Homo sapiens: one gene and its partner. Changing the gene in region 1 together with any one later gene gives a genetic interaction. Each region holds a gene or a part of one and is shown on either strand. Other genes may lie near its edges. The genes, in order: ALG12 and GBF1.

What was found.
Region 2: changes in ALG12 (region 1) and GBF1 together harm fitness more than expected from each alone (negative genetic interaction), as found in Homo sapiens cells (one study listed by BioGRID).

The regions. Positions count from the first base shown.
Region 1 is NC_000022.11:49,904,661-49,908,466, reverse strand, and holds part of ALG12 (dol-P-Man:Man(7)GlcNAc(2)-PP-Dol alpha-1,6-mannosyltransferase), read left to right. Parts: intron 1-522; coding exon 523-746; intron 747-3,806. UniProt on the Homo sapiens protein: Mannosyltransferase that operates in the biosynthetic pathway of dolichol-linked oligosaccharides, the glycan precursors employed in protein asparagine (N)-glycosylation.
Region 2 is NC_000010.11:102,363,847-102,367,652, forward strand, and holds part of GBF1 (Golgi-specific brefeldin A-resistance guanine nucleotide exchange factor 1), read left to right. Parts: intron 1-1,550; coding exon 1,551-1,753; intron 1,754-2,536; coding exon 2,537-2,660; intron 2,661-3,238; coding exon 3,239-3,364; intron 3,365-3,631; coding exon 3,632-3,714; intron 3,715-3,806. UniProt on the Homo sapiens protein: Guanine-nucleotide exchange factor (GEF) for members of the Arf family of small GTPases involved in trafficking in the early secretory pathway; its GEF activity initiates the coating of nascent vesicles via the localized generation of activated ARFs through replacement of GDP with GTP.

The DNA of each region.
Region 1 (3,806 bases):
AACCTCCAACTCCCTGGTTCAAGTGATTCTCCTGCCTCAGCCTCCTGAGTAGCTGGGATTACAGGCACATGCCACCATGCCCAGCTAATTTTTGTATTTGTAGTAGAGACAGGGTTTCACCATGTTGGCCAGGATGGTCTCGATCTCTTTACCTCGTGATCTACCCACCTTGGCCTCCCGAAGTGCTGGGATTACAGACATGAGCCACTGCGCCCGGCCGACCATCTGTTTTTAACAGTGAAGAAAAGGGTACAGAGACCGAACGTCCTGTGGCCCTTGCTGCCTTGGTCCTGCCTGGAGGGGGCCCGACGCCCAAGTGGTATGTGTGCACCCGAGCTGTGGCCTGGGCTCTGTCTTTTAGGAGGGGCCTGAGGCCTGAGTGGTGTCTGTGCACACGAGCCGTGGTCCAGGCTGCATCTCTCAGCACAACTGTCTTCAAGCGTCTTCTCCACCTTGACCCTGCCACCTAGCCCACGGGCTCATGCGTGGACAGGTGCGTGGCCTCCTTAACCCAGCCCGCAGACCTCCCCGCTGCTGTGGTACTTCTACTCAGCCCTGCCCCGCGGCCTGGGCTGCAGCCTGCTCTTCATCCCCCTGGGCTTGGTAGACAGAAGGACGCACGCGCCGACGGTGCTGGCACTGGGCTTCATGGCACTCTACTCCCTCCTGCCACACAAGGAGCTACGCTTCATCATCTATGCCTTCCCCATGCTCAACATCACGGCTGCCAGAGGCTGCTCCTACCTGTGAGTGCTCTTTTTGTGACATGCATTTTTATAGTTTCATTGGAAACAGGTTCACTGATTTACTGTTGGGGGGATGTATGTGTGTGTTTAATTTTTGAAACAGGGTCTTGCTCTGTCGCCCAGCTGGAGTGGGGCTTACTGCACCCCTCAACTCCTAGGGGGTTAAGCCATCCTCCTGCCTCCTCCTCTGGAAGTGCTGGGATTGCAGGTGTGAGCCACCAGGGCTGTTTTTTAAGATAAACACAGGGTGTGTTGAACTAGGCGCTTATGTCAAAGGAGGGTGACCCCAGTCCTCTCTCCTCCCTGAGGGCTGCATGGGATGGGACCGGCCTGGCATTGTGCTGACAGAGGGCTTTGCTCAGGTGGTCTCTGTCTTGGGTTAATTTGGTGACTGGTCCACATATGGTGATGCACCAGCGGTCCCAGTCTCTGTCATGGGAGAGTGACACTCACATAGGTAGCAGCGGCAGAGGGCAGGGGCAGCCAGGCCTGGGAGGCTCTGAGGGCGACAGGTCAGGTAGAGGAAGGGCGTTCGTGGCCATCCTGACAGGGCCTCGGGCTTGAGGGCGTTTGTCAAGGCGGGTCATCTGGCTGGAAGAGGGGGATGGTGAGGGAGGTGCCTATGGCTGGGTGCAGAGGGCCCAGCGTGGCCCAGGCTCAAGGTCCTGTGGAGGGCAGGGGGCTTCCTGCGGGGAGGGACTGCAGGCAGCAGGTGATGGAGGTGGAGCTGGGGGCCTGGCAGGGCCTGGGGAGGGCACTGCCTGGGCTGAGGGTGGGGTGGTCTGAGCGCGGCTGCCACTCAGTGTTGCAAGCCTCAGGGAGCCAGGAGAGTCCATCACTGCCGGGCCCTGTGGGTGCTGGGGAAGGACCCGGGGCTCAGGCCCAGGAGAGTCCATCACTGCTGGCCCTGTGGGTGCTGCGGAAGAACCCAGGGCTGAGGCTGGCCAGCTCTGTGCCCGTTCAGAGTTTGCTGCCTTGATGGGAACAGGAGGCCAACTCAGGCCACGCTGGGCATTGAGGGGCGGCAGGGCTACAGGCCAGGAGGGCCGCGGCCTGGGGCATTGAGAGGTGCCCACTCTGGCTGGAGAGGAAGCCCCACAATGCGGTCCCTGATCTCAGGCAGCGGTCAGGTGCTTTCCGGTGCCACTTGTTACAGGGGAGGGGATGGTGCCCCCCAGCTCCGACTGCCCCGCACTGCCCTCGGGCCTGGGAGCTCCTCTGGCTGCCGTGACTGTTCCTCGCTGGGGGTTCCTCCGGCTGCCGTGGCCGTGCCTGGGTTGGGGGCTCCTCTGGCTGCTGTAGCCGCGCCTCAGTGGGGGCTCCTGGGAGCTCTGCCTCTGCTTTTCTGTGCCTTTGGCTCCCTCTCGTCTCAGGGGTCGGCTCAGGGCTGGAGGAGGAGCAGACCCCAGCCAGAGTCATGGAAAAGAGGGTAGGAAAGACGGGGAGAGCGGCGCGGATGGATTGTATTCGGTGACAGGCTTTTCCAGCAGGGAAGAAGATCCAGTGGGAACTGGACCCAGCTCTGTGTCTTTGAGGCCTGGTGTGCTGGGCGTGAGGGGCTGCTCCATGCAAGGGCCCCTGCTGTGCCAGTCGGCCTTATCCGGAGGAGGACAAACTTGGGGAGTCCAAATGAGGGGGTGCAGGGTAGAGCAAGGCCCCCTCCGAAGTCAGGTCCTCAGCCCGGCCACCCTGGGAGCAAGAGCAGGCCGTTTCCCACGGTGTCAGGGCCCAGGGCCTTGAGACAGTCCTGGGGGTGGAAGGTTTCTGATTGCGAGCTTTCCACAGTGACTGCCCACTCCAGGTTTGGGCGGGAACAAAGGACGAACGCCCTGGCAGTGCTGAGCTCTTTGGGGCAGGCACTTAGGAGGCTGCGGTCATCCTAGGTGGGGCCTCGAGCTCAGAAACCGCACCAGAGATTGTTCAAGGGTGCACTAGTCTGCTCTCGCACTGATGTAAAGAAACACCTGAGACTGGATAATTTATAAAGAGGAGGCTTCATTGGCTCGCGGTTCCGCAGGCTGTACGGGAAGCGTGGTACTGGTGTCTGCTCAGCTTCCAGGCTGGCCTGGGAAAACTTTCCATTATGGCGGAAGGCGAGAGGGAAGCGGGCACGCTTTTATGTGGCCAAAGCAGGACGAAGAGGGACGGGGGAGGTGTCACCCATTTTCAAACAAGCAGACCTCTCGAGAACTCACTCGGTATGAGGAGAACAGCATGGAGGGGATGGCGCTAATCCATTCCTGAGGGCTCCACCTCCATGACCCAGTCACCTCCCACCAGGCCCCACCTCCAGCATTGGGGATCACAGTTGGACATGAGATTTGGTGGGGACGCAGATCCAAACCATAGCAAAGGGCAGGGCCTGTGGAGAAGAGGGCTCCGAGGAGCCTGGTGGGTTTGGAAGAGAGTGAGTCTTGATCGGGGGTTCAGGGCGTTTAGACCAGGGTTGGCAAGCTTTTCCGTTAAGGACCAGCTAATAAAGAGCCTCATCTTCGTGGGCCACACTGTCTGTGGCAGCTGCTAACTCTGCCGTAGGATCCTGAGATTGGCATAGTCGATTGTGAGAGAACCGGCGGCACCCTGTCCCAGAGAGTTCACTCAGACCTGCTGGGAGTGGGCTTGGCCGCGCGGGTGGCACTCTGACCTACACAGTCACTTGGGATTGTTTGAAAATATATTTTTAGGCTGGGCGCAGTGGCTCATGCCTGTAATCTCAGCACTTTGGGAGGCTGAGGCGGGCAGATCACGAGGTCAGGAGTTCAAGACTAGCCTGGCCAACATAGTGAAAGCCTGTCTCTACTAAAAATACAGAAATTAGATGGGCATGGTGGCGTGCACCTGTAGTCCCAGCTACTTGGGAGGCTGAGGCAGGAGAATCACTTGAACCCAGGAGGCGGAGGTTGCAGTGAGCCGAGATCATGGCACTGCACTCCAGCCTGGGTGACACAGCGAGACTCTGTCTCAAAAATATATATATATTTTAAAATCTCATCTAAATTTTAAATTGGCATCTTGGGTAGAATTTCACAGACAATTCTTGAGGCAGTATCTTAACCACTT
Region 2 (3,806 bases), on another chromosome or scaffold:
AGTGTTGTAGGGTTTCCATCTCAGAAGATGAAGGAGAGTCTAGCACCTCATTGTACAGCTTCCTGAGGCCAGTCTTTGGGCTTGTTGGGACTTCAGCAACTCCCATTTGAAGCCCTTCCCTTACTCCTAAGCTATGTAGTTGAGCATACCCTATGTATGCCCCTGCGCAAATGCTGTACCAGTTGAGAGCCAAGTGTCACTAGTGGCAGTGACAGGAGCCTTGGGAGTTGGTGTCTTGTGGGTCATTGAAGGTTACTGTCATCTCCAGCTCTTGCAAGATGATTGGCAATAAAGGGAAATTGATATTCATTCTGGTGCTTTAGTAAGGTTCAAATAGTAAGGTTCAAATAACTGTTTGTACTTTGGATTTCTTTTTTTTTTTTTTTTTTTTTTTTTCAGACGGAGTCTCTCTCTGTTGCCTAGGCTGGAGTGCAGTGGCATGATCTCAGCTCACTGCAACCTCCACCTACCGGGTTCAAGCAATTCTTCTGCCTCAGGCTCCCAAGTAGCTGGGACTACAGGCGTGTGCCACCATGCCTGGCTAATTTTTTGTATTTTTAGTAGAGACGGGGTTTCACCGTGTTAGCCAGGGTGGTCTTGATCTCCTGACCTCGTGATCTGCCCACCTTGGCCTCCCAAAGTGCTGGGATTACAGTCGTGAGCCACCATGTCTGGCCTGTACTTTGGGTTTCTTAACACAAAGAAAACCTAACCCTTTCTGGCCGGGCGCAGTGGCTCACGCCTGTAATCCCAGCACTTTGGGAGATCGAGGTGGGCAGATCACCTGAGGTCAGGAGTTTGAGACCAGCCTGGCTAACACGATGAAACCCCGTCTCTACTAAAAATACAAAAATTAGCTGGGCATGGTGGTGCATGCCTGTAATCCCAGCTACTCGGGAGACTGAGGCAGGAGAATCAGTTGAACCTGGGAGGCAGAGGTTGCAGTGAGCTGAGATCACGCCACTGCACTCCAGCCTGGGCAACAGAGTGAAACTCCATCTCGGAAAAAGAAAAAAAAAACCTAACCCTTTCTTTCTCTTATTGCCAGCTTAAATGACTTTGGTTCATGTGTGCCCTTGAGTACCTGGCCGTGACTGGACATACAGAAATATGAGTTGCCTCCACAGTTAGTCCACTTTGTCTTTCAAACCCAGGGCATTAAGCTAGGCAACCAAAGAAGCTAAGCTAGGCTAAAAACAAGAGGCTGGCTATCAACAAATGTCAGGGATGGATATAAAACTGGAGAGAAGAATTACCTAGTTTCTTTCTTCTACTTTTCCCCCAATCCTAAGTTAGAGAAGAGGAACTGTTTTATGTATCTTGAGCACTCAGGAAAGGAGTAAAAAAGAGCTCGTAAGCCAATTCAATTAGACATGAAGATGGGGGAAGCTAAGGCCATTATGATCTAGCCTTAGTTCTGTAATCACTAAGAACCACATCCTAGGAGCTTTTTAGCTGACCAACTGTGGGTGGGCTATGGTGGACTCCAGGCTGGCCTTGTCTAATTTAGAGGCAAAGTAGCTTCTATACCTCTAGTTTTTCTCATGCAGCTGCTAATCACTGGCACAGAGCAGTTCAATCAGAAACCAAAGAAGGGGATTCAGTTTCTGCAAGAGAAAGGCCTCCTCACCATCCCAATGGACAACACAGAGGTTGCTCAGTGGCTCCGAGAGAACCCTCGGCTGGACAAGAAGATGATTGGAGAGTTTGTGAGTGACCGCAAAAACATTGACCTGTTGGAGAGCTTTGTGAGGTGAGGAAGCTGTAAGAAATGTGGGATATAGCCAGGTATGGTGGCTCATGCCTGTAATCCTGACACTTTGGGAGGCTGAGGCAGGCAGATCACTCGAGCTCAGGAGTTCAAGACCAGCCTGGGCAACATGGTGAAACCCTGTCTCTACAAAAAATACAAAAATTAGCTGGGCATGGTGGCATGTGCCTGTAGTCCCAGCTGTTCAGGAGGCTGAGGCAGGAAGATCACTTGAGTCTGGGAGTTCGAGGCTGCAGTGAGCTGTGATCATGCCACTGTGATAGAGTGAGATAGAGTGAGATAGAGTGAGATCATGCCACTGTGATAGAGCTGTGATAGAGTGAGACCTTGGCTCAAAAAAAAAAAAGGTGGGACATGGTTAGTGATCAGTTTAAAGGGACAGAACATCCCTACCTCAAAGCGGTCTCTATAAATTTCTTCTGGAGACCCTAGCCAATGTTCTTCCTCTACCCATCATTTATATCTATTGGACCTGAAAGGGACTCCAACGAGATAGTTTGGGGAGCCCCCTCCATTCTGCATGGAGTCCATTCCAAAGGGGTAGAGCAGGGTTCCAGGGGGTGAGGGTTCTAGGCAAGAGTCCGTGGATGTGAAAAGTATTAAGGCTAGGGGTTGTGTTAGGGATGAACAGGAGATACTGCCCCTTTACTAGAGACCTCAGCCTCCTCTCTTCCAGTAAGAGTAGGTTAGGAGGACAGTGACTAAAAGAGCCTGACATGTGCAGCTTACACATTTTCAGCCTCTTCTTCCTTTCTTTCCCTATAGCACCTTCAGTTTTCAGGGTCTGCGACTGGACGAAGCCCTCCGCCTCTACCTGGAAGCCTTCCGTTTGCCTGGGGAAGCACCAGTCATCCAGAGGTTGCTGGAGGCATTCACAGAGCGTTGGATGGTGAGTTTGAGTGTCAGGGGCTGAGCCCAGGATCCAAGGTCAGTTTGACTGAGGGCTGAAGAATCCAGCTGCTGTCTCTTTTTTTTTTTTTTTTTTTTGAGACAGAGTCTCGCTCTGTCACCCAGGCTGGAGTGCAGTAGCGCAGTCTCAGCACACTGCAACCTCCACCCCCCGGGTTCAAGCAATTCTCCTGCCTTAGCCTCCTGAGTAGCTGGGATTTCAGGCACCTGCCACCAAGCCTGGCTAATTTTTGTATTTTTAGTAGAGATGGGTTTTGCCATGTTGGTCAGGCTGGTCTCGAACTCCTGATCTCGGGTGATCCGCCCACCTCGGCCTCCCTGAGTGCTGGGATTACAAGCGTGAACCACCGCACCCAGCCTGCTGTCTCTTAAAAAGTCAGAGAGCAAAATTAGTGACCTTTCCACAAAGAGATCAGCTTCTGTTAAGGAGTTGGCAAGAGACTGGCCACTTTCTGGATGGTACCTCTCCTCTGTACTAGCACTGACCAGTGGGTTGGTAGTGAGGGTTTAATTGGCCAGAGAAGGGCATTGACACAGGCGGGATCTTTGCTTTTTCAGAATTGTAATGGCTCCCCATTTGCCAATAGCGATGCCTGCTTTTCCCTGGCCTATGCTGTCATCATGCTTAATACTGACCAGCACAACCACAATGTTCGTAAACAGAATGCACCCATGACCCTGGAGGTAAGCTTGGGTCCCAGTCAAGGCAAAGAAGACCCAGCACAGCTTGGGAGGTAGCAGGAAGGACATAGGATTTCCAGTGGGCATGATGGATGGGGTTCTGTCCAAGGGAATCAGGAAGGGCTGGCCAACCTAGAAAAGGGACTGGGGTGGGGAAGTGGGTTTTTTCGCTTACCTTTTCCTAAGTCCTATTTACTGAAAACCCAGGAGTTCCTTAGGTGGGGCTTCAGTGTTGACACAAGGGGAAAAAACTTACTGGCCTGTCTCTAGGAGTTTCGCAAAAATCTGAAAGGTGTGAATGGAGGCAAGGACTTTGAGCAAGACATCCTGGAGGACATGTACCATGCCATCAAGTGAGTATACATAGAGAATAGTGCAGTATCTCTGTTAAGAAGAAGCACATTGCTTCCTTTCCCAGTTTTTAGAGTCATGTCAGACTGCAGTG